7 linked regions of the Homo sapiens genome follow. The protein of the gene in region 1 purifies or fractionates together with the protein of each later gene. This does not show direct contact. Each region holds a gene or a part of one and is shown in the gene's direction. Other genes may lie near its edges. The genes, in order: CEP162, YEATS2, CCDC61, SKIC3, TBC1D31, CEP97 and BBS4.

Region 1 (3,500 bases):
ACAAAACAGCTAGACAATCTAAAAAAGAGATGAAGAAGAAAGATACAGTGCCTTGGTGGATAACTGAAGATGATTTTAAAGATGATGGTAAATGTTGCTGATTTTTAGTTTCAAATTATTTGACCACAAGGGGTCAGTCAAGACTTCTGGATTTTGTTACTTCACTATAAATATATACAGAAAATAATACTAATAGTGTGGATTTTTGAAGTTTGAATTGATTTTCATATAACCAGTACTTTATTATGTATTTATTATGTAATTGAGAATCTGCGTTATAACATTATCAGCTTATTTTACATGGAGATAATTTATATTTACTCAAATTAAGGTGACAATTCAGGTATATTTATTATCATGTTTAATGATAAATTGATTTAAGGTGATTTAATAAGATATTCTGGCAGTATATTAATGTCATTGCATTGGGAAGAGTTTAACAAACCTATAGACCTTGGTATCACAGTTTGTTAATGACAGTAGTAAAAAAAAATTTACTGCCATATGTATATATGTCTCTCATATATATGTATATGATATGCCCAGGCTGAAGGGCAGTAACACAATCATAGCTCATTGTAACTTCAAACTCCTGGACTCAAGCAATCTTCCCACCTCGGCTTTCTGAGTAGCTGGGACTACAGGTACATGCCAACATGCCTGGCTAATTTTTTTTATTTCTTGTAGAGATAGGGTCTCTCACTGTGTTGCCAGGCTGATCTCGAACTTGCCTCAAGCAGTCCTCCCACCTTGGCCTCCCAAAACGCAGAGATTACAAGCCTAAGCCACCACTCCTGGCCTGATAGGTTTACTATACATGATACTGCCACATCTGTAAACAACCCCGACTGCTTCTATTTCAGTACCTACATTCACACCATTTGTGGATCAGTGTTAAGCACAATTTTGTAAAATGATAGAATTTCTGTATCTCTAGGGAAAAAATATACATATGGGCTTTTGGTTTCCCCCCCTCCCCATGAAAATTGAGCCTGAATTCATGTCATAATTAAGACTCTGCATGATCTGACTGGAACCCTGCCTTCTCGTGTACTGTAGCCATAGGTAATCATTCCTCATCTCCTGGAAACACCATAGGCCTCCCTGCCTCTGTGCATTATCTCATGCTTCCTTGCCATTAGAATGCCTTTCCTCTCATCCTTCTTGCCCAATAAAGCCTAGCATCACCACTTTTTGCAGTCCTTCACTCTATCTTCTAGCTCTCTTGTCACAATTAGTTTCTCCTTCATTTTGATGTCAGAACACCATAGTAACACTTACACATTGTGTTGATAGTTGTAACCTATAGGACAACTCCTGCGGTTGGGAGCTTTGCGAGGGTAGGAAACACTTCTTTGTCCTTGTATCCCCTGACCCTCAACATTAAATGATAAATTTGTTTAATAAATGCATGTTAAAGTAGATTTGACAGTTACTTCTCTGTTCTTTTTAATACTGTAATTTAAAGAAATTCCTTATTGAAAAATTCAGTGCATTTTTTATAAATTCTTATGCAACATGCTGAACTTTGTAGTGAAGAATTATGTTTTAGACTCTCTCCCTGCTTTTAATGCTTGAAAAGGATATTATAAGATGAAGTACTGTTGGAATTGTTGACAAAGATTTGGGACACAAAGCCTTTTGTCTAGAAGATAATGAATCAGAGCAGATATATACAACCTAATCCTACAGGAAAAGAATAGCTCCTAGACCAAAAATACTCACATGTAACCTGATTGATGGTATTAATAATTTTTTTAAATGTATCAGAAATAGATTTGATTAGTAAAAGAAGTAAAGAAGGATAGTCAAGAAGCAAACTTTGACAATGTCAGCTTAAACAGCGGGAGGTTTCCCTGCCCACGGGAATAACCTGGTCCCTGATTCAAGCAAACGGTTACTGAGTTTGTATTATGTTCTAAATACTAGGCATTATTATGAAAAGGCAAGACGTGATTCCTGTATCAAGAGTGTAGAACCTTCTGAGGGAGAATTCAACACTCCTCTTGAGAAGAGGAATGCATTATTAATCTTAAGACAGGTACCATTAAACATTAACAGTGAGCGGCTTTTACATTATAATTTTGCTTGTTTCCCAGTTGCCATAGGAATAAAATGTTCGGCTTAGAAGGTGAAACTATCTCATCCTCTTGCTGATTGTATTCTTTATTGTAAATAACTAAACTGGATCTTCGTTTCTGTTATATTAATCTCTTGTGAACTTGGTTAGTGTGAGCTACAACCTCAAGTCGTGCTTTAGAGCCAGGGTGAGACCCTGGACATGTTGCCACTACAGCACACCAACCTTGGCATATACTTTTTCATTTGAAGCATCTATGAATCTCTCTCTTGATTTTTTACAACTTATGGAGGTTATTATTTGATCCAGTAAAACCATTATTCACAGAAAGGCATAAAATAAATTGATTCTTAGCCTTTTCCAAGAGGACACAAATTAGGAACTTGAAGTCAAAATTCGTGACTTCTTAATAAGGCTTCCTCCTACCAAAAGTGATATTTTTTCTAATCTTCATATTTATAGCACACATTTTCAGTCTTCTGGTTTTTGAAGAAAACAAAGAACAAAAGAATATTAAAAAGCAAAAAACAAAAATAAAACATTACTCATAATTATTTACCTTTTCCATATATCAGTTTTTTACAACAAACATATACTATTAAAATAAGGAAATTTTGATACTGTATAGCTTTACCAGTTTTTTCTAGTGCTCTTGGAATACAGAGCAAGACCCTCTGCTGGCCTATGAGGACGAGCACGGTCCAACCATTGACTTCCTGCTCTGGGCTTATTTCCTCTTAGGCTTACGCTCACCATCTGGGTCCAGCCTCACTGGCCTTTTTGCATCTGCAAATGTGGCCTGCCCCTCCCATTGTCATGCTTCTGTACCTACTGTGTCCCCTGCCTGTTCTGGTCTCCCTGGCCTAGTTCACCTAATTATTTCCTGGTCTTTCTTCACATCTTAGCAGAAATGTTACTTCCTCATGGAAATATTCTTGGATTTTCCTGTCTTGGTATACCCCCCCAATTAATCTTATATAATTCCTTCAAAGCAGAGTTGTAATTCACATTTAACTTTGCTCTGTGAATACTGCTGCTTCTCTGGTAACCTCCAATGGTTACTGTTTTCTTTGCCACGTCTCTTGTTCCATTAGACTTGGAAAAGGAGTAGGTTATTGTTCATTGCTGTTTCTAGACCGTTCTTCCAATCTCCTTATGAACCTTGCTATCAGACCACCTATCTACTGTGTCTCTTTGTTGCAGTTATCTACTGAACTCCGGGTTATTCCTCCTCATTCCTCAAAGATTTTAGCTGCTGTTTCACTGTGAGTCTCCAATTCTCTTGTCTAATTATTGGTGACTACATTAACTACATAGCTAATGCCTCTAATAACCTGACTTCCGAGTTCCTTAAACTTGTTTACACCAAAAAATCTTGCCTGCCACATCATAGCCACCTCTTCCCTCTAATAGCTTCTCA
Region 2 (3,500 bases), on another chromosome or scaffold:
AGGGGGGGCAAGTCCCAGTTTTGCCATTAAGCTTCTTGAGAGCCTAATGCAGGATGGCCTCTCCTTTCTCTCATCTCCTGCAGCGCTTAATATCAACAGCATGAGGGCTTGTCTGACTTCGCTGTGTAAGCTACTCGGAGAGCAGAGACCGTGTTAATGATCCCCGGGCTTCACTGACATTGTGTGGAAAGCACAGTACTTGCACATACTAGGCTTCCTTTTAATCTGACTGATTCCAAACGGCCCCTAACCTACAATGGTTTGACCTGTGATTTGATGTTGTGACTTTACAATGGTCTGAAAGCTGTAGGCATCAGCACATACCTTGACTTACGATGGCCTTGTCCAGATAAGGCCATCGTAAGTTGAAAATATCCTAAGTCAAAAATGATATTTTCAACTTACGATGGGTTTTTCAGGATATAGCCCCAGCCATCATAACTTGAGGAGCAGCTGGAGCTTGTTAGAGCCCAGTCAGTAAAACAAAAGGCCAGGAGCTGGGTGCCCTTAAATCTTGTACCTGGTGTGGACCTCACACACTCATCCAGAAAGTGGAAGGGCACTAGTGCCCTAGATCTGGCCTTGAGGTCCTCACACTCCTGATTAGGTTTTGTATAAATCACCTTATTAGAGACTGGACCCATAATATACATTGAAATGTTAACAGTCCTGCTCTCTGAGCAGTGAGAATAGGGGTGATTCTTTTTATTTTCTTCACTCTGCATTTCTAAATTTTCCAGATTTGAGATGAGGAAAAATCAGGTCAGTCCTTAATACTCAGAGGGAGGGGGATGACCTGGTTTTTGGTGGCAGAAGTGAGAATTCCTACTCTTTCATCTTAGATGGCAGTTACCTTACATAGATCACACACAAGATGCCTGTGTTTATGCCTTTCTCCCTCGTGAATTACTAGTTCTCATCATTATAGATCCATAGAATGTTAGAACTGGAAAGAAGGTCAGCTCCCCTGATGCTTATCCCCCTTCCTCAGACCATGGGTCTCTTGGAGACGGAAAGTCCTCTTCCGTTGGCCCCACAGCTGTTGTAACACTGCTTGCCTGTCATTTAGAGTGCCCATCATCATTCTCCTCTGCTGACAACCTCTGCCGCAAACTGGAGGACCTGCAACAGTTCCAGAAAAGGGAACCCGAGAATGAGGAGGAGGTGGACATCCTCAGCCTCTCCGAGCCAGTGAAGATAAACATCAAGAAGGAGCAGGAAGAGAAACAAGAGGAAGTCAAGTTCTACCTGCCACCAACCCCAGGGTCTGAATTTATTGGGGATGTCACACAGAAGGTAGGGGTTGTGGTGTTAATAGTTCATGCAGCAGACCAGCTCAGAGCTAGATGTTCAGACGTTCAGCTTCACAGACCCAGACCCAGGTGTTCAGCCTCACAGACACAGACTCAGACCCAGACTCTTCTGGTGCCGTAGATGCTTGACTTCCTTCTGCCTGGTTGACCCAGGTGTGCTCTCAGGGCTCCCACCGTCCCACATCAGAGCCCTTGGGCAGAAATGCTAATTACATGTGAAAACATTGCTTGTTGAACGCAGACGTGAAGCAAAGCTGGCTAGATAGAAATGGTTGATTACTCTTCATCTTGTTTTTCTCATCTGCCTCAGTAGAAGCACCTTTCCCTCATGAGGCACGTCGTACTCTTTCTGAGTTGCACGTCAGCGCGTAATCCTCCCCTGATGTGTTGATAGCTCCTGAGTGCCCCGCCTGTGGTGCAGATGGCGTGCACCTGCCTTACTATACAGGAGAGAGGTATTTATCCACCCTGCTGGAGCCTAACAGCTCTTCAGCATCTGCCAGTTGCTCAGGGCCCAAGGTGAAAGACAGTGTGCTTTCATTGGATGCCATGAAGAATGGGCAAGATGCAGTTTCCAAGTGCAAACAGGACGTTGGAGTCTGATTCCAGACCTTTCAAAGTGTTGATTGCGTATCAGAACCCAGGCAGATCCCAACCATGTTCTCCCACGAAGGAGATTTGAGAGATTTTAATAGGATTATAGTCATATTTTAAATATCAGCCAGAAATGTGGAAAAACAAGATAACATTCTTCTAGATGTTATATTCCGTGTTCCTTTCCCGTGAATTTTGCCCAATATGTTTGCAGAGTCCTCCTTCCAACCAGGCATCGCTTTGCATGTCAGGGAGGTATGCTTGTTTGGAGAGAGGCTGTTTCTAAAGCAGCGATACGAACAAACGGCTTTCTTCTGCTTTTCCAGATTGGGATCACCCTGCAGCCCGTGGCACTCCACAGGAACGTGTATGCGTCCGTGGTGGAGGACATGATCCTGAAGGTGGGTGCCTGCAGGGGCCGCCAGCCAGGAAGGATGGTTGCATCCCAGGCGGTTTGGAGTAAGGGGCAAGGACAGAAAAGGAACAAAGATAACAGGCTTTAAAATGTCTCGTCTTATTTGGGCTTAAGTTCTCTCTTTTTGTTTTTTTGTTTTTTTTCCTTCTGATTTTTAAATGGACTAAGTTATGTTTCCTCTGAGTCATGTGGTTTCAGGTGCCTCCTAAGACGTATTCTGGGGGTGGTGGTCAGTGTGCTCGTTGCTTTAGGAGGTGGCAGAGACAAAGCCTATGGTTTTCTGTACACGTCACAACAGCAAACAGCCCCAACTGTCCTGACCCTGGCAAGGGGACGAAAATGCCGCAGCCTCCTTCCCCAGCCTGATCCTAGCTCAGCAGTTCCTTTCCTCGTGGATCCTCTCCAAGAATAGGGATACCTCCGTAACAACTGCTTTCCTTAAATACAATGTCTAGGGCTGGGCGCGGTGGCTCATGCCTGTAATCTCAGCACTTTGGGAGGCCGAGGCGGGTGGATCATTTGCAATCAGGAGTTGGAGACCAGCCTGGCCAACATGGTGAAACCCCATCTCTACTAAAAATAAAAAATTAGCTGGGCTTGGTGGCGCTCACCTGGTAATCCCAGCTACTTGGGAGGCTGAGGCAGGAGAATCGCTTGAACCCGGGAGGCGGAGGTTGCACTGAGCCAAGATCGCGCCACTGCGCTCCAGCCTGGGCGCGAGAGTGAGACTCCATCTCAAAATAAATAAATAAATAGAATAATGTCTGATTAATGAAAATCACTCCAATTCATAATTTCTCAGAATCATGGCCTTTATCATTATGGTCTATTATTGAGGCCTTTAATTTTTTCTTAAGGACTTTTTAATCCCTAGTTGCAGTGGTTTCAAACATTTGGGGTAAGGGATGGGGTTAAATGTGTCCCTTCTTGCCAGCAAGCAGATGGCCATTTGAAGAATAACAGCATCTTCCATTGTAGGCTACAGAACAGCTGGTGAATGATATCCTGAGACAGGCTTTGGCAGTTGGATACCAGACAGCTTCTCACAACAGGTATTACTATCTCTGCAGTCTGTGGTGTGAGGCTTACACCTCTTTCCTAACAGTTGAATTGCCCATGAAGGTGTTTTATACTTACATCAATCCAGTAGGAGATGGAGTGAGTGCTTAGGACACTCT
Region 3 (3,500 bases), on another chromosome or scaffold:
TTTGTGCTAGCCCCTCCCTGCCACTCACGTAGTGCCCAGCCCTGGGGGAGATGGGTGCTAAGTATATAACCACTTGAGTATATCATTACAGATGGAGATGAGTAGGGCAGGAAAGGGAGCCTGTGCTGTGGGAGGCTGTCACAGGACTCCACTGGGGTGTAGGGTGGGTCAGGCCCAGGGGCTGGGGAAGTGTTGTAGGCAGAGGGAACAGCCTGGGCAAAGTCCTTGTGTTAGGTGGGAATGCGGTGAGAACAAGGGAATGAATGAAGTGAAAGAAGCAAAGGCCTTTGGCATATATATTCATGCCTGCCTTGTGCTTGGTTCTGTTGGGGAGACGAATCTGGGGCTTGATCGCTACCGGGAAGAGGCCTGGCTCGTTGGGGAGGACTAATAATATTTTTAGTAATAATGTTACCAGTAACTAATGTTTATTGAACATTTAACTGTATGCCAGGGCTGCTCTGTGCTTTATGATTAAATTCATTTTATCCTCACAGCCACCCTACAAGGTAGGCACTGCTATTATCACCGTTTGACAGAGGCCCAGAGAAGTTAGGGAACTTGGCGCAGGTCACACAGTGGGTAATATGGCTAGGCTGGACCTTAGATCCAGGCAGCCAGCGCCGAGCCTCTGTTGTTTCCCCAGCTGTTTGCACTGTTGGTGGCTGCAAGCCCAGGACAGAGCGCTAAGTGCTGACCCGGAGGACCAGTCCTTATGGGAGCTCATGGGGCTGGGGAACCCCGCCGGTCTTTGGAGGAGCTCGCCTGTGTACGGCTGGGCCGAGGAAGGCCGCAGTGGGGAGGCCAAAATTTATCCTCAGGATCTGCTCTCAGGCTGTGTGTGTGTGTATGTGTGTGTGTGTGTGTGTGTGCGCGCGCGTTTGCTCTGTCTCAGGCTGTGTGTGTGTGTTTCTAGGTTTGTGTTTCTGGGTGTGTGTTTCCCAAGATGGCCACAAGGGGGCGCCCTCCACCCTTTGGAACCAACCACAGGAGCCTTGAGATCCCACCGCTGCTCAGTGGCTTCTTATCTTCCTCTTCCCAGCCAGGAATTAGGGAGTTTGGGAAGGTTCTGAGATTTATTCATTCATTGAGCCAACATTTATGGAGTTCATACTGTGCCAGGCACACTGCCTGACGCTAGTTAATGTTTATTATGCTAGACATGGTCTAAGCACTGTGGATAGATTCTTACAGCCTAACAGGCGGGCATTCTTATTATCGTCCCTCTTCACAGATGAGAAAAGATGGCCTGAGGCTCAGAGATGTGAAGTGAAACTGCCCAGGGCCACCCAGCTTGTTAACAAGTGGAATAGAGTTGAATGCAGGGCGCCCGGCCACGCAGCCTGGGGTCCTGTGCAGTGAACCAGACAGGTGGAGGCTCTGCCCCCAGAAAGGTGGGATCCACATGGGAAACGGACACTCCTCTACATGCCAGGTCTGCCAGGGCTGGTGCTAGGAAGGAAAGGTATAGAGGGCTGGGAGAGCGGAGAACGTCAGGGGCAGGTAGGCTTCCCGGATGAGTGGAGTCGTTCTTGCCAGGAGAAGAGGGAGAGAAGGTTCTGGGAGGTGAGAACTGCATCTGGCTGGAGCCTGTGGGAGAGGGAGGCAGGAGGAGAGGAGGGGAGAAGTCAGATGGGCAGGGGCTGAATAGAAAGGAAAGCTCCTTGTTAGAGAGTGTGGGGAACCACGGATTTTAAGAAGGATTTATTAGGAAAAATTCCAGCACCACAAAAGTAAACAGTAGTATAATTTGCACGTACTTGTCCCCCAGCTTCAACAGTTACCCACGTTTGCCCATCTTGTTTGATGTACTGCCACCCCCTGCCCTGTAGCAAATCCCAGTCTTCGTGTCTCCTCTGTAAAAGCATCAGTGTGTATCTTTAACACATAAGGATATAAGTGCTGCCATCACATCCAACAAAATTCACAAAAATTCCAGGATGTCATCTGAAACCCACTGCGTATGCGTTCACACTTACACTTCTCTGATCACCTCTCAAATGTCTTTTTTGCAAGTGGTTTGAATTCGTCCTGTATCTAAATACGGCTGCACATTGCAGTTTGTCGAGGTCTTTCTTTTCTTTTCTTTCTTTCTTTTTTTTTTTTTCAGTCTTGCTCTGTTGCCCAGGCTGGAGTGTGGTGGTACGATCTTGGCTCGCTGTGTCCTTACCTCCTGGGCTCAAGCGATTCTCCCACCTCAGCTTCCTGAGTAGCTGGGACTACAGGCACATGCCATCATGCCCAGCTAATTTTCATATTTTTTTATAGAGACAGGGTTTGCCTGTGTTGCCCAGGCTGATCTTGAACTTCTGAATTCAAGCCATCCACCTGCCTTGGCCCCCCAAAGTGCTGAGATTACAGGCACGAGCCACTGAGCTTGGCTGATGTATTTCTTAAATCTCTTTTAATTTATATCCCCCTCTCCACTTTTCATGCTACTTATTTGTGGAAGAAATCAGGTTATTTGTCCTGTAGAGTTTTGCAGTCTAGATTTTGCTGAATTTTTCCCTAGCAAGCATACTCAGATGGAAAAATGAAAAATAGATTTTGCTGATTATATCGCCATGGTGTGTTTAATGTCCTTCTCTGTCCCCTGTACTTGCAGTGAAGTGGTGGCTAACCCTATATAGGTTTAATCACATGTGGGGTAGGTTTTGGCAAGATGCCTCCTTTGGTGGTGTTGAGACTGATGATTTCAGCTGTTGAGAGCTGGCTCCCTCTTTTATAAAGTTCTCTTCGGCCTTTCAACCAATGCAGTGGTTCACTCTGGATATGCACTCAAATTGCCCGGGAGCTTTGAAAAATCTCAGTGCCCTGGCTGCCCTGTACATTCACCATTTCTTTTTCTTTTTTTGAGACCGAGTCTCGCACTGTCACCCAGGCTGGAGTGCAATGGCGTGATCTCTGCTCACTGCAACCTCTGCCTCCTGGGTTCAAGCGATTCTCCTGCCTCAGCCTCCTGAGCAGCTGGGATTACAGGTGTGTGCCACCACACCCGGCTGATTTTTGCATTTTTAGTAGAGACGGGGTTTCACCGTGTTGGCCAGGCTGATCTCGAACTCTCGACCTGTCTCAAGTGATCCACCTGTCTCAGACTCCCAGAGTGTTGGAATTACAGGTGTAAGCCACCGTGCCTGGCCTATTTTTCTTTTTTTAAAAATTTTGTGAGCAGTGAGGAGTTCCAGGGCAGGCCCTGACTCCTCCAGACACACCACTTACACCTGAATCTCTGGGATGGGACCCGTCCCTCCTGCCCAAGAGTCCCACTGCTTCCACTACTTAACTTTCTTGTTGTGAAAAATAATATACTCCAAAGAGTATAAAATATAAATGTACGGTTTCACAAATTATCATAAAGCCAGCGTACATGTAACAACTACCCAGGTTAAAAAATTGAGGCTGGGCTCAGTGGCTCACGCCTATAATCCCAGCACTTTGGGAGGCCGAGGCGGGTGGAACACCTGAGGTCAGGAGTTCAAGACCAGCCTGGCCAACATGAT
Region 4 (3,500 bases), on another chromosome or scaffold:
TCAAAGGATTTTTTGGCATATTTTTGTATGTTTAATGAAATTATTTCTTTTTTCTTTAATCTGTGTATTTATCTTCTGTATTTGTAAAGATACTCATTAAATGAACTTTTAATGTTCTGTTATTATCAATATTTATTTCAAAGGCTGCAAGACTGGATACATATATGGGCAAAGTTTTCTGCTATTTAGGTCATTATTATAGAGACGTAGTGGGAGATAAAAACAGAGCTCGTGGATGTTATAGGAAAGCCTTTGAATTAGATGACACTGATGCTGAATCTGGAGCTGCAGCAGTTGACCTAAGTGTGGAGCTTGAAGATATGGTATGTCTAATAATCACTTTTGCTTTTTGTTTTTTTTATCCTGAGTATATAAATGAAAATATTTTTATATATGTATACTTGAAAGTTATCATTAGTTTTTTTTCTATAGGTGCAATATAAATATTTTTGCCTCTGTAAGTGAAGTTTTTTTCCATTGGCAGATATTAAATTACTAACCACTTATTGTTGAAACTGTAATTTGATGTATACCAGTGTAAGTTTAAAAAATCAGAAGTGAGAAATGAAAATATGTTTGTGTACTTTACATGAGCGTTCTGTCTTTTTATAATGTTCAATATATCTAATATTAGTATTTTCTTATTATTAGGAAATGGCTTTAGCTATCCTAACAACAGTAACTCAAAAGGCAAGTGCTGGAACGGCAAAATGGGCCTGGCTTAGGCGAGGACTATACTATTTGAAAGCTGGTCAGCATTCTCAAGCAGTGGCTGAGTAAGGCACCTTATTGTATTTAAACTATGTTAGACAAGCATAACGGTTCCTTAAATTAAGCATTTTAATTGTCTCTTACCAGGTTGTATTTTGAGAGAAGAAATAACAAAATTACTTTATGATTGATTGGTGTTTATTGTTTGCAGGGCAGTGGAATTGCAGAGATGGATTAAATGGTGTCCTGTTGTTGAGGAGATAGCCAGATTAGTGAATTGAAGTCTTAATACATATGTATAGTAGTTCTCAATAGAAATTTTAGTGATGAGAAGCTGAGGTACATATCTTTGTTGTTCTGCTGACACACATTGTTTTTGGCAAGGGAGACATTTGGCAGCTTAAAGGGCATTGGGAGCAGCTCATATATGATCAATTTGAGTCATTTGATTTGAACAGTACTTAAATGTAAATAAATGTATTTGAATCAAAATAAAATTGTTTCTGGTTTATGTTAGTATCTAGAGTACAGGCATTTTCACGGAAATGGAATTTGATCAGATATTTAAAGCATGCCTATTGTTTCCATATTTTAACTGTGGTATTTCTGTTTGGTAAAAGGATTGCTGGTGGGGGATTATGGGCTGATGTGACAAACTGAGATGGACACCTGTCCTGGTAGGATAGAAAACTCGAGTTCTTCAAGATAATCAAGGAAAAGAAATTTTGTTCAGCACTTTTTCAAAAAAAGCATTTTATTCTTATTCTGAAATTAAAATAACATTTCTTAGCATTAAAAAAATCATAAAAGGAACAAATTTATCTGCTTTAAATAGCACTTTTATAAGTAGAAGGAGCCACAGATATATATGTTTACTTGAATTATTTATTTTATATTTTCCTTTCAGATTTGGAGATAGTTCCATACTTTTAGTTCTCTTACGGTTTTTTAAATTTTAGTTTACAGGCAGCATTAAGAGCAGACCCAAAGGACTTCAATTGTTGGGAATCGTTAGGAGAAGCATACTTAAGCAGAGGAGGCTACACAACAGCCTTGAAGTCCTTCACAAAAGCCAGTGAGCTGAACCCAGAATCCATATACAGTGTGTTTAAGGTTGCAGCAATACAGCAAATCCTAGGCAAATATAAGGAGGCTGTAGCTCAATACCAGATGATCATTAAAAAGAAAGAAGATTATGTGCCTGCTTTAAAAGGTAATTTATTTTTAGTAGCTCCTTTGACTTTTATGATCCTGAAGTATAAAATCCTTGAGTAGATTTCCTGCCTAAATGTATTGAATAACTTGAAAAGGACTTCTTTAGTCAACAGCAAGCATCCATATGAACCTCTTACAGTATAGCTTATATAAATTTGAATATAAAAAGATCAAATCTTGTTTCACAAGTTAATAAATAGTAATGTGACAGAGATTTAACTTTTAGACAAACAGTATGATAACTATTAGATCTAAAAATTGATCTCTAAAACATGTTTCCCTACTCTTACATTTTGATAATTAATTCATCATGTCTCCAGAATATCTTAATACCTTTAATTACTTTGTAAGTTATACAAGCTCATTAAATTTTTTTTAAACTTCAGAGACAACTTGCATTGTTTTGTAGTTATCTAAGTTATTTTTGGTAATATAAAATAAAATACCACCATCCATATATAACCTACATTTGTAATGATTGTATTAAAAAAGCTGGGAGCTCATTATATATGCTTACTTTCTTCCATTTCCTTCTTTCTCCTTTTTAAAGAAACTGGTTTTTTTTTTCTGTTTGTTTTTCTTAAGGAATGCTTTATGAATTTTTGTGTCATCCTTGCTCAGTAGCCATGCTAATCTTCTTTTTATCATTCCGGTTTTGGTATATGTGCTGCTGAAGTGAGCACATAAATAGTATATTGTATATGACATATAACTTAGGGCTTGAAACTTTTTTTTTAATTTTGTAAAACTCTTTCCTCAAGAGAAGGAGAACTCACATTTAAGAAATCTTTACTAGGAACTTTAGGTAATCACTATTTCATTTAATTCTTATAGTATAGCTTGCTATACAGATTTTAATATAAAAAGATCATATCTTGTTTCACAATAGTTAATAAGTAGTAATATCATGGAGAGTAACATATAGATAATATCCACATTTTTTGTAGCCAAAGTTTTAGCAGGTAAGTAACTTGCCCAAAGTCAAGGAAATTCTTGGGTTCTGTAGATAACTTTTTTATAACTTCTAGTGCATGTTTACTCCAACAGAATTCTTCCATTTGAATTTCTTATTGAGTGAATGTAGGATCATGCTTTAAGATAATTTTATAACACACCGTTAAGTTTTATTTTCTGGAAAGTGCTTTAAAATAACACCAATAACTTTATTTGAAGTTCATTTTAAGTGTTTATTTTATATGTTTTAATAACAGTGACAAACTTACCTGATTTTAGGTTTGGGTGAATGCCATCTTATGATGGCAAAAGCAGCTCTAGTTGATTATCTTGATGGAAAAGCCGTAGACTACATAGAAAAAGCACTGGAATATTTTACTTGGTTCGTATTATTCTTATTATTTATTGTTTATTTTTGTAATATTAAAATGAAGCCAAATTTAGAAGATCATTTTATGTATTCTGCTAGATATAGCAATTGCTCAGAATGTCAAACATAAAGAATAACAGACAAGCCAATTCTATAACATACATGTTGTATTAATTTTGCACTTGGGGAAACAGATATAATTTCTTCTGCTCTTAGTAGTGGCTGGCATCCTAGATGCATAGGAAAGAAT
Region 5 (3,473 bases), on another chromosome or scaffold:
AGATTTCCAAAAATTATAGAGTACAGTTAACAAGGAGCTTTTATTTTACTGTGTTTTATTTTGTTTCAGTCTTTTATAATGTGTATACATTGCTTTTTAAAATAATAGCTTTGTTGATACATAATTCACATGCCCTATAATTCACCTTTTTTCTTTCTCTTTTTCTTTTTTTTTTTTTTTTGAGACAGAGTTTCGCTCTTGTCTCCCAGGCTGGAGTGCAGTGGTGCGATCTCAGCTCACTGCAACCTCCACCACCCAGGTTCAAGTGATTCTCCTGCCTTAGCCTCCTGAGTAGCTGGGATTACAGGCCTACACCACCATGCCTGGCTAATTGTTTTATTTTAGTAGAGATGGGTTTTCGCCATGTTGGCCATGCTGGTCTCGAACTCCTCACCTCAGGTGATCCACCCGCCTCGGCCTCCCAAAGTGCTGGGATTACAGGCGTGCCCAGCACCGCACGCAGCCTAATTCACCTATTTAAAGTGTATTATTCAATGTCATTATATTATCATGTACTAAAAAATACACTTACATAGTCATGCAGCCATCACCACAAGCAAGTTTAGAGCATTTTTCAGCACTTCAAAATAAACCCAGTACCCATTAGCAGTCACTCCCCATTTCCACTCACTCCCCCAAGCCCCTGGCAGCTACTAACTACCTTGTGTCCACTCACCTATTCAGGAAGTTTCATGTAAATATAATCATGTAATATATGGTCTTCTGTGTCTGGTTTCTTGTACTTGGCATAATGTCTTGAGATTCAACCATGTTGTAGCATGTACCAGTACTTCATTCCTTTTTATTGCTGAATAATATTCCATTGTGTGGATATTATGTATTTTTTTAATCTATTCATCAGTCGATGGACATCTGGATTCTTTCCAATTTTTGGCTTCATGAATATGCTATGTGCATTACTTTTACATTTCACAAATTTGAAGAGTGAAAATATAGGTTAGGTCATTTAATTATGCCTACCTTTTTTTTTTTTTAAAGACAGAACTTCACTCTGTTGCCCAGGTTGGAGTGCAGTGGCACGATCTTGGCTTACTGCAACCTCTGCCTCCTGCATTCAAGAAATTCTCCTGCCTCAGCTTCCTGAGTCGCTGGGACTACAGGCGCATGCCACCATGCCCAGCTAATCTTTAGTAGAGATGGGGTTTCGCCATGTTGCCCAGGCTTGTCTCGAACTCCTGGCCTCGAGTGATCTGGCCACTTTGACCTCCCAAAGTGCTGGGATTATACCTCACCCGGCCAAATCATGCCGACTCTTAAAACCACTCATTACCGCTCATACTTGAGATTTAGTGGTCCCAAATAGCACCAAGAGTACTTCAGGGAGGTGGAGAGGAGTAGAATGTGACTCTGCACGAATTAAATATTTAAAACTGGCTTACAAAAGATACTAATCATGGGAGCTGTCACTTCTCCCTCACCCTCTCACACTTACCCTTGTTTTTTTTTTTGGTTGTTTGCTTTTTTGAGACGGAGTCTCGCTTTGTCGCCAGGCTGGAGTGCAGTGGCACAATCTCGGCTCACTGCAACCTCCACCTCCTGGGTTCAAGCAATTCTCCTGCCTCAGCCTCCCAAGTAGCTGGGACAACAGGCGCCCACCACCACGCCCAGCTAATTTTTGTATTTTTAGTAGAGACGGGGTTTCACCATGTTGGGCAGGGTGGTCTCAATCTCTTGACCCTTGTGATCCTCCTGCGTGGCCCTCCCAAAGTGCTGGGATTACAGGCGTGATCCACCGCACCCAGCCTTACCCTTGTTTTAGAAAGAAAAATAGAAAATCTTTAGAGAGCTATCTACGTAGAAATAGAGAAAGGTAAGAAACTGTGAAAAGCTTTCGTCATCGGTAGTTTTCCTACACCTTTGCCCCTCTGCCTCCATGATGTCTTCCCTTCGTGCTAAATTTTTTTTGGCAGACCAGTCAGCCATGTATGTTTTTTAACCTTGCTGAATTTCACCAATAGAGATAATTTGATTAATAAACATCCAGTTTTCAAAAGTCTTAAGTTTATGACTGAATGATGTGTCAGTCATGTTCTTAATCAGGGTATATAGATTTAATCAGATTCATTTAATCCTAAAAGCAGGAGATAATCACCTACCATTAAGAAAATGACATTTTTGAGCCCGGCGCGGTGGCTCACTCCTGTAATCCCAGCACTTTGGGAGGCCAAGGTGGGCAGATCACAAGGTCAGGAGTTTGAGACCAGCCTGGCCAATATGGTGAAACCCCCGTCTCTACTAAAAATACAAAAATTAGCCAGGCGTGGTGGTACACACCTGTAATCGCAGCTACTCAGGAGGCTGAGGCAGGAGAATCGCTTGAACCCAGGAGGCAGAGGTTGCAGTAAGCCAAGATCGCACCACTGCACTCCAGCCTGGGCGACAGAGCGAGACTCCATCTCAAAAAAAAAAAAAAATACAAACCTATATGTGTTCAAAAAATACACATGTTCAAGACCTCACCAATAGTGATTTAATTCAGTAGATCTAATAATAGTAATAATTCCGTCAGTAGCTCTAGGGTAGAAACTAGGGAGCTAGATTTTTGTTTTAAAGTTTCACGAGTGAATATCCCCAGCCAGTGTTTGAAACATTGCTGGAGACAAAAGGTAATCATTAGTTGTTTGAACAGAGATAATATTTACAACACAGCCCTTTGGGAAGATGAATTGAACAGGAGTGGGCAGGTTGAATTTTGGAGGACAGATGAGAGGGAGCTGTGAGATCTCAGCTCTGGCTGGGCACGGTGGCGCCTGTAATCCTAGCAATTTGGGAGACTGAGGCGGGAGGATGGCTTGAGCCCAGGAGTTCAAGACCAGCCTGGGCAACATAGTGAGACTGCCTCTAAAAAATAAAGAAACAAAAAGATCTGAGGAACCACACCTGATTCGCGTCTTGTCTGTGCAGCAAATGTAGCAGTGGCCAGCGTGCTTGTGCCAGAATGCTGGTAGACTGGGAAGCTCGTGACCTTATTCCATTTGCTACAAGTATTTTATTTTGGAGTTATTTCTGGCCAGGCGCAGTGGTTTACGCCTCTAATCCCAGCACTTTGGGAGGCCAAATCATGCCTACTTTTAAAACCCCTCATACACCTGAGGTCAGGAGTTCGACCTGGCCGACATGGCCAACATGACCAACCTGGCCAACATGGTGAAACCTCGTCTCTACTAAAAATAGCCGGGCATGGTGGCGTGAACCTGTAATCCCAGCTACTCCAGAGACTGAGGCAGGAGAATCGCTTGAACCCAGGAGGTGGAGGTTGCAGTAAGCCGAGATCACGCCACTGCACTCCAGCCTGGGGTGACAGAGCAAGATTCCGTCTAAAAAAAAAAAAGTGTTATTTCTTAGTAAAATAGTTCAATCTGCTTTTTCTTTTCTGTTTTTCTTTTTCCGCTGAGTTCTGTCCGCAGAAACCGTTCTCTGGAACAGTGCAGATTGCAGATTACGTTTACTAC
Region 6 (3,500 bases), on another chromosome or scaffold:
TAGTCCACAGGGATGTTTCCATGGAAGAATACTTCTTTTTCTTTTGAGATGGAGTCTCACTCTGTTGCCCAGGCTGGAGTGCAGTGGCGCAATCTCGGCTTACTGCAAGCTCCGCCTCCTGGGTTCATACCATTCTCCTGCCTCAGTCTCCCGAGTAGCTGGGACTACAGGTGCATGCCACCACGCCTGGCTAATTTTTTGTATTTTTAGTAGAGACGGGGTTTCACCGTGTTAGCCAGGATGGTCTCAATCTCCTGACCTCATGATCCGCCCACCTCGGCCTCCCAAAGTGCTGGGATTACAGGTGTGAGCCACTGCGCCCGGCCCATGGAAGGAATACTTCTAATTATCTTTATTAAATAAACTAAACTTTTTTGGTTAAATTTTATTGTTATTATACTTTAAGTTTTAGGGTACATGTGCACAACGTGCAGGTTAGTTACATATGTATACGTGTGCCATGCTGGTGTGCGGCACCCATTAACTCGTCATTTAGCATTAGGTATATCTCCTAATGCTATCCCTCCCCCCTCCCCCCACCCCACAACAGTCCCCAGAGTGTGATGGTCCCCTTCCTGTGTCCATGTGTTCTCATTGTTCAATTCCCACCTATGAGTGAGAACATGCGGTGTTTGGATTTTTGTCCTTGTGATAGTTTACTGAGAATGATAATTTCCAATTTCATCCATGTCCCTACAAAGGACATGAACTCATCATTTTTTATGGCTGCATAGTATTCCATGGTGTATATGTGCCACATTTTCTTAATCCAGTCTATCATTGTTGGACATTTGGGTTGGTTCCAAGTCTTTGCTATTGTGAATAGTGCTGCAATAAACATACGTGTGCATGTGTCTTTATAGCAGCATGATTTATAGTCCTTTGGGTATATACCCAGTAATGGGTTGGCTGGGTCAAATGGTATTTCTAGTTCTAGATTCCTGAGGAATCGCCACACTGACTTCCACAATGGTTGAACTAGTTTACAGTCCCACCAACAGTGTAAAAGTGTTCCTATTTCTCCACATCCTCTCCAGCACCTGTTGTTTCCTGACTTTTTAATGATTGCCATTCTAACTGGTGTGAGGTGGTATCTCATTGTGGTTTTGATTTGCATTTCTCTGATGGCCAGTGATGGTGAGCATTTTTTCATGTGTTTTTTGGCTGCATAAATGTCTTCTTTTGAGAAGTGTCTGTTCATGTCCTTTGCCCACTTTTTGATGGGGTTGTTTGTTTTTTTCTTGTAAATTTGTTTGAGTTCATTGTAGATTCTGGATATTAGCCCTTTGTCAGATGAGTAGGTTGTGAAAATTTTCTCCCATTTTGTAGGTTGCCTGTTCACTGTGATGGTAGTTTCTTTTGCTGTGCAGAAGCTCTTTAGTTTAATGAGATCCCATTTGTCAATTTTGTCTTCTGTTGCCATTGCTTTTGGTGTTTAGACATGAAGTCCTTGCCCATGCCTATGTCCTGAATGGTAATGCCTAGGTTTTCTTCTAGGGTTTTTATGGTTTTAGGTCTAACGTTTAAGTCTTTAATCCATCTTGAATTGATTTTTGTATAAGGTGTAAGGAAGGGATCCAGTTTCAGCTTTCTACATATGGCTAGCCAGTTTTCCCAGCACCATTTATTAAATAGGGAATCCTTTCCCCATTGCTTGTTTTTCTCAGGTTTGTCAAAGATCAGATAGTTGTAGATATGCGGCGTTATTTCTGAGGGCTCTGTTCTGTTCCATTGATCTATATCTCTGTTTTGGTACCAGTACCATGCTGTTTTGGTTACTGTAGCCTTGTAGTATAGTTTGAAGTCAGGTAGTGTGATGCCTCCAGCTTTGTTCCCTCTTTTTCTATTGATTGGAATAGTTTCAGAAGGAATGGTACCAGTTCCTCCTTGTACCTCTGGTAGAATTTGGCTGTGAATCCATCTGGTCCTGGACTCTTTTTGGTTGGTAAGGTATTGATTATTGCCACAATTTCAGAGCCTGTTATTGGTCTGTTCAGAGATTCAACTTCTTCCTGGTTTAGCCTTGGGAGGGTGTATGTGTCGAGGAATTTATCCATTTCTTCTTGATTTTCTAGTTTATTTGCGTAGAGGTGTTTGTAGTATTCTCTGATGGTAGTTTGTATTTCTGTAGGATCGGTGGTGATATCCCCTTTGTCATTTTTTATTGTGTCTATTTGATTCTTCTCTCTTTTCTTCTTTATTAGTCTTGGTAGTGGTCTATCAATTTTGTTGATCCTTTCAAAAAACCAGCTCCTGGATTCATTAATTGTTTGAAGGGTTTTTTGTGTCTCTATTTCCTTCAGTTCTGCTCTGATGTTAGTTATTTCTTGCCTTCTGCTAGCTTTTGAATGTGTTTGCTCTTGCTTTTCTAGTTCTTTTAATTGTGATGTTAGGGTGTCAATTTTGGATCTTTCCTGCTTTCTCTTGTGGGCATTTAGTGCTATAAATTTCCCTCTACACACTGCTTTGAATGTGTGCCAGAGATTCTGGTATGTTGTGTCTTTGTTCTTGTTGGTTTCAAAGAACATCTTTATTTCTGCCTTCATTTCGTTATGTACCCAGTAGTCAATCTGGAGCAGGTTGTTCAGTTACCATGTAGTTGAGCGGTTTTGAGTGAGTTTCTTAATCCTGAGTTCTAGTTTGATTGCACTGTGGTCTGAGAGACAGTTTGTTATAATTTCTGTTCTTTTACATTTGCTGAGGAGAGCTTTACTTCTAACTGTGTGGTCAATTTTGGAATAGGTGTGGTGTGGTGCTGAAAAAAATGTATATTCTTTTGATTTGGGGTGGAGAGTTCTGTAGATATCTATTAGGTCCGCTTGGTGCAGAGCTGAGTTCAATTCCTGGGTATGCTTGTTAACTTTCTGTCTAGTTGATCTGTCTAATGTTGACAGTGGGGTGTTAAAGTCTCCCATTATTATTGTGTGGGAGTCTAAGTCTCTTTGTAGGTCACTAAAGACTTGCTTTATGAATCTGGGTGCTCCTGTATTTGGTGCATATATATTTAGGATAGTTAGCTCTTCTTGTTGAATTGATCCCTTTACCATTATGTAATGACCTTCTTTGTCTCTTTTGATCTTTGTTGGTTAAAGTCTGTTTTATCGGAGACTAGGATTGCAACCCCTGCCTTTTTTTGTTTTCCATTTGCTTGGTAGATCTTCCTCCATCCTTTTATTTTGAGCCTATGTGTGTCTCTGCACGTGAGATGGGTTTCCTGAATACAGCACACTGATGGGTCTTGACTTTTTATCCAATTTGCCAGTCTGTGTCTTTTAATTGGAGCATTTAGTCCATTTACATTTAAAGTTAATATTGTTATGTGTGAATTTGATCCTGTCATTATGATGTTAGCTGTTTATTTTGCTTCCTAGCCTTGATGGTCTTTACAATTTGGCATGATTTTGCAGTGGCTGGTATCGCTTGTTCCTTTCCATGTTTAGTGCTTCCTTCAGGACCTCTTTTAGGGCAGGCCTGGTGGTGACAAAATCTCTCAGCATTTG
Region 7 (3,500 bases), on another chromosome or scaffold:
GAAAGTGTAAAGATCATGGTTATAGATGTGGGGGGCCAGTGAGGATTCCTAAGTAGGATGGTAATGTGGTCAGATTTGTAAGGCAGTGAGATACCTGGCAGCGCTGTGGAAGGTGGAATGGAGGCAGGTGGGGACTTTGACACTGGGGAATAAATGGAAAGCCTAAAACTACTTGGGCCTGAACAAGGGCAGTGTCAGAAAAGAAACTGCAAAAAAAGGATGCATAGAACCTGGCAACTGATTGACTGTAGAAGAGATGGTTGAAGATAGCACCAGGTATCTAAGCTGACTTAGTAAACTCTGGTGCCATGAGCTGACAGGGTGAAGTTTACTTTGGGGGTAGTCTTTAATACTCCTTTTGTCTTCTAAGCTGAGCTCTCCAGCTGCAGTGCTTTCTTTGTTGCAGTGGCTCTGACCAATCTGGAAGATATAGAAAATGCCAAGAGAGCCTACGCAGAAGCAGTCCACCTGGATAAGTATGCACTTTGTTGAGAATGGTACTGGCGGGGGTTGGACTCTCCAAAGCCATGAGGTGGTGCCATACATAGCATTGGTGCTGCCTGTGTCAGCCCAGCTGTTCCTCTATGGCATTAGTACATAGCAGACCTCAGTGTGGAGGGATGTGTCTCCTAAGTATGTGGTGGCTCAGCAGGAATTGACACTCTGAGAAAATGTTTCCAGTCCTAAACTGAGTAATCAGGAGGCTAGAGAATGTCAGAACTGGCAGTGGGCTTGGGTTGCTGATAGCTATGGGCTAGCTGGAATATCAGATGGGACTCTGGGCTGTTTAATTCAAGATAAAACTTGACTCTTCCAGGATTTACTCCGCTGGCATCTTCTAGACAGCAGGGTAGAGATCCCTTTTTCAACCCTGGCCTAGGTAGTCTCTGTTGAGGGCTGAGATGCCAGATTTGGTCCCAATACCAGCTTTGCTTGTTAGGCCATTAACTCCTTGATTCTTCTCCACAGGTCTGCTTAGCACGTATGTACCTACCTTGCTGCATAATGGAGAAATCTCTACTTAACCAGTTTTGTTTTGTTTTTGTGTAATGAGAAGGATCTCTAAATGACCATTTGTTGCAGAGCCCCCAGCTCCATAGAATCTCTGTCTGCCACAGGTGTAACCCTTTAGTAAACCTGAACTATGCTGTGCTGCTGTACAACCAGGGCGAGAAGAAGAACGCCCTGGCCCAATATCAGGAGATGGAGAAGAAAGTCAGCCTACTCAAGGACAATAGCTCTCTGGAATTTGACTCTGAGGTATGTCTTTTATTAGCTCCCAAGAGTCATAAGTAAGCTCTCAGGAGACTTTTAAAAATCAAGCCCAGATCATCCAAATCCAAGGTATTACACGTTCATGGCTGTTCTGGCTTTGATGTTCCTAGCAGCATGAGTTCATCAATTAATAACAGCCTGAGAAAAACTTTCCTAGAATAATAATAAAAGGAAATTCAGGCTTACTGAGTTGTTATTGCTAATTCAACTCATCAAAGTTGAGGTCTGTGTCTGTCTGTAGCTTCCTTCTATTTCACTTTTTTTTTTTTTTTTTTTTTGAGACGGAATCTCGCTCTGTTGCCCAGGCTGGAGTGCAATGGCGCAATCTCAGTTCACTGCAACCTCCGCCTCCTGGGTTCAAGCAATTCTCCTGCCTCAGCCTTCCAAGTAGCTGGGACTACAGGCGCGTGCCACCACGCCCAGCTAATTTTTGTATTTTTAGTAGAGACGGGGTTTCACCATGTTGGCCAGGATGGTCTTGATCTCTTGACCTCGTGATCCACGTGCCCAGCCCTATTTCACTTGTTGTAGGAAATGCACTGTTTGGCCCGGTAATGCACCAGGCTTGAATTGTTGGGTTTTGAGATCCTATGTGAACCACCATGCCATCCAGTAAAGGCAATCTGTAATCTCTACTGTTTGATAAGTACTTCCTGCCTCAACTGCTAGTACGACCAGACACTATTTCAGCTAAAACCCCAGCTCGAAGACCAAAGAAGTGGGTTGGCTTGTCTCTGACAGTCACGCTTTTGATTCTTTTACTTCCTTTGTGGACACAAGATGGTGGAGATGGCTCAGAAGTTGGGAGCTGCTCTCCAGGTTGGGGAGGCACTGGTCTGGACCAAACCAGTTAAAGATCCCAAATCAAAGCACCAGACCACTTCAACCAGCAAACCTGCCAGTTTCCAGCAGCCTCTGGGCTCTAATCAAGCTCTAGGACAGGCAATGTCTTCAGCAGCTGCATACAGGACGCTCCCCTCAGGTAGGACCATACAGAGCTCCATGAAGACCTGGCAGGTACAAGCCACATGTGTCTGTCAGCAGAGATTATAGCTTTCAGTGAGGTTCTCTTCAGACTCATATGTCCAACGTAGTATTGGCCACAAGGGGAGAAAAAAAACACAGGGTGGCTAAATTGGCACTTGTTTCCTTAAGGCGAGCTATGTAGTAGGTAACAGCTACTCACAGACTTAGTTGGATGGTCTATACACTGGTCTTTCCAATTTTAGCAATATGTTATTAAGTATATCCTGTTATGCAATGTTTAATTTTTACTGCTTTATCAGAAGTTGACACGTAAATATTTTTCAGTGACTCATTGAAGGCAAACTTGACTGTTGCTTTATTTCTCAGTTATAGTCTTCCCTTATAGTTAATGGGTCAGTCCCACTGGTTCCAGAAAATATGGGGTTTCCTCTTGAACTCTAACAGCAAAAAAGAATGATTTCTTCTGAAATTGTGGAACATGAGGATTCAAGTTTTTATTTTGTTACTAGGTGCTGGAGGAACATCCCAGTTCACAAAGCCCCCATCTCTTCCTCTGGAGCCAGAGCCTGCGGTGGAATCAAGTCCAACTGAAACATCAGAACAAATAAGAGAGAAATAAGAATAGAATGAATGACCCCAAAATAGGGTTTTCTTGGGCGAGGATGTGCTGGATTAGGAAAGGTGACATGACACAGGCAGAGCAGAGTGGCACCCACCACAGAATACAGTGTGTGTTATTACGAGGAGCCAGCAGTTGAGCCTAAGGTCCTTCTACCTACCTGGTATTGGCATTTGAGGTCGGAAACCCTCTACTGCCCCATAAGCCAGGAAAAGTGAAAAGAGAACACAGTTCCTTTAAGAACTGGCAGCAAGGCTTGAGGCCTTATGTATGTAGCTGAGTCAGCAAGGTACATGATGCTGTCTGCTTTCAAAAGGACTTTTCTCTCCTAGCTGACTGACTCCTTCCTTAGTTCAAGGAACAGCTGAGACAGACCTCTGCTGAGTAGCTCTGTGATGACAAAGCCTTGGTTTAACTGAGGTGATCCTCAGGTTGTGAGGTTTATTAGTCCCCAAGGCAAACACAAATATTAGATTAATAATCCAACTTTAATAGTATACATTTAAAAGAAAAAAAACAAAAGCCCTGGAAGTTGAGGCCAAGCCTGCTGAGTATTGCAGCTGCATTTGCCCAAAGGGAATCCAGAACAAGTCCCTCCCTGTATTTTGTTCTTGAGAGG

The links.
Region 2: the proteins of CEP162 (region 1) and YEATS2 purify together in Homo sapiens (affinity purification with mass spectrometry; one large-scale study listed by BioGRID and IntAct). This does not show direct contact.
Region 3: the proteins of CEP162 (region 1) and CCDC61 purify together in Homo sapiens (affinity purification with mass spectrometry; one large-scale study listed by BioGRID and IntAct). This does not show direct contact.
Region 4: the proteins of CEP162 (region 1) and SKIC3 purify together in Homo sapiens (affinity purification with mass spectrometry; one large-scale study listed by BioGRID and IntAct). This does not show direct contact.
Region 5: the proteins of CEP162 (region 1) and TBC1D31 purify together in Homo sapiens (affinity purification with mass spectrometry; one large-scale study listed by BioGRID and IntAct). This does not show direct contact.
Region 6: the proteins of CEP162 (region 1) and CEP97 purify together in Homo sapiens (affinity purification with western blotting; one large-scale study listed by BioGRID and IntAct). This does not show direct contact.
Region 7: the proteins of CEP162 (region 1) and BBS4 purify together in Homo sapiens (affinity purification with mass spectrometry; one large-scale study listed by BioGRID and IntAct). This does not show direct contact.

Annotation. Positions count from the first base shown.
Region 1 is NC_000006.12:84,217,644-84,221,143, reverse strand, and holds part of CEP162 (centrosomal protein of 162 kDa), read left to right. Parts: coding exon 1-87; intron 88-1,930; exon of another isoform or gene 1,931-2,041; intron 2,042-3,283; exon of another isoform or gene 3,284-3,345; intron 3,346-3,500. UniProt on the Homo sapiens protein: Required to promote assembly of the transition zone in primary cilia. Acts by specifically recognizing and binding the axonemal microtubule.
Region 2 is NC_000003.12:183,805,797-183,809,296, forward strand, and holds part of YEATS2 (YEATS domain-containing protein 2), read left to right. Parts: intron 1-1,069; coding exon 1,070-1,296; exon of another isoform or gene 1,297-2,233; coding exon 2,234-2,308; exon of another isoform or gene 2,309-2,316; intron 2,317-2,933; exon of another isoform or gene 2,934-3,056; intron 3,057-3,300; coding exon 3,301-3,374; intron 3,375-3,500. UniProt on the Homo sapiens protein: Chromatin reader component of the ATAC complex, a complex with histone acetyltransferase activity on histones H3 and H4. YEATS2 specifically recognizes and binds histone H3 crotonylated at 'Lys-27' (H3K27cr).
Region 3 is NC_000019.10:46,008,967-46,012,466, forward strand, and holds part of CCDC61 (centrosomal protein CCDC61), read left to right. Parts: intron 1-3,500. UniProt on the Homo sapiens protein: Microtubule-binding centrosomal protein required for centriole cohesion, independently of the centrosome-associated protein/CEP250 and rootletin/CROCC linker.
Region 4 is NC_000005.10:95,520,478-95,523,977, reverse strand, and holds part of SKIC3 (superkiller complex protein 3), read left to right. Parts: intron 1-143; coding exon 144-323; intron 324-651; coding exon 652-776; intron 777-1,670; coding exon 1,671-1,924; intron 1,925-3,159; coding exon 3,160-3,262; intron 3,263-3,500. UniProt on the Homo sapiens protein: Component of the SKI complex, a multiprotein complex that assists the RNA-degrading exosome during the mRNA decay and quality-control pathways.
Region 5 is NC_000008.11:123,145,707-123,149,179, forward strand, and holds part of TBC1D31 (TBC1 domain family member 31), read left to right. Parts: intron 1-3,473. UniProt on the Homo sapiens protein: Molecular adapter which is involved in cilium biogenesis. Part of a functional complex including OFD1 a centriolar protein involved in cilium assembly.
Region 6 is NC_000003.12:101,748,614-101,752,113, forward strand, and holds part of CEP97 (centrosomal protein of 97 kDa), read left to right. Parts: intron 1-3,500. UniProt on the Homo sapiens protein: Acts as a key negative regulator of ciliogenesis in collaboration with CCP110 by capping the mother centriole thereby preventing cilia formation. Required for recruitment of CCP110 to the centrosome.
Region 7 is NC_000015.10:72,734,707-72,738,206, forward strand, and holds part of BBS4 (BBSome complex member BBS4), read left to right. Parts: intron 1-406; coding exon 407-476; intron 477-1,118; coding exon 1,119-1,260; intron 1,261-2,055; coding exon 2,056-2,257; intron 2,258-2,771; coding exon 2,772-2,881; 3' UTR 2,882-3,500.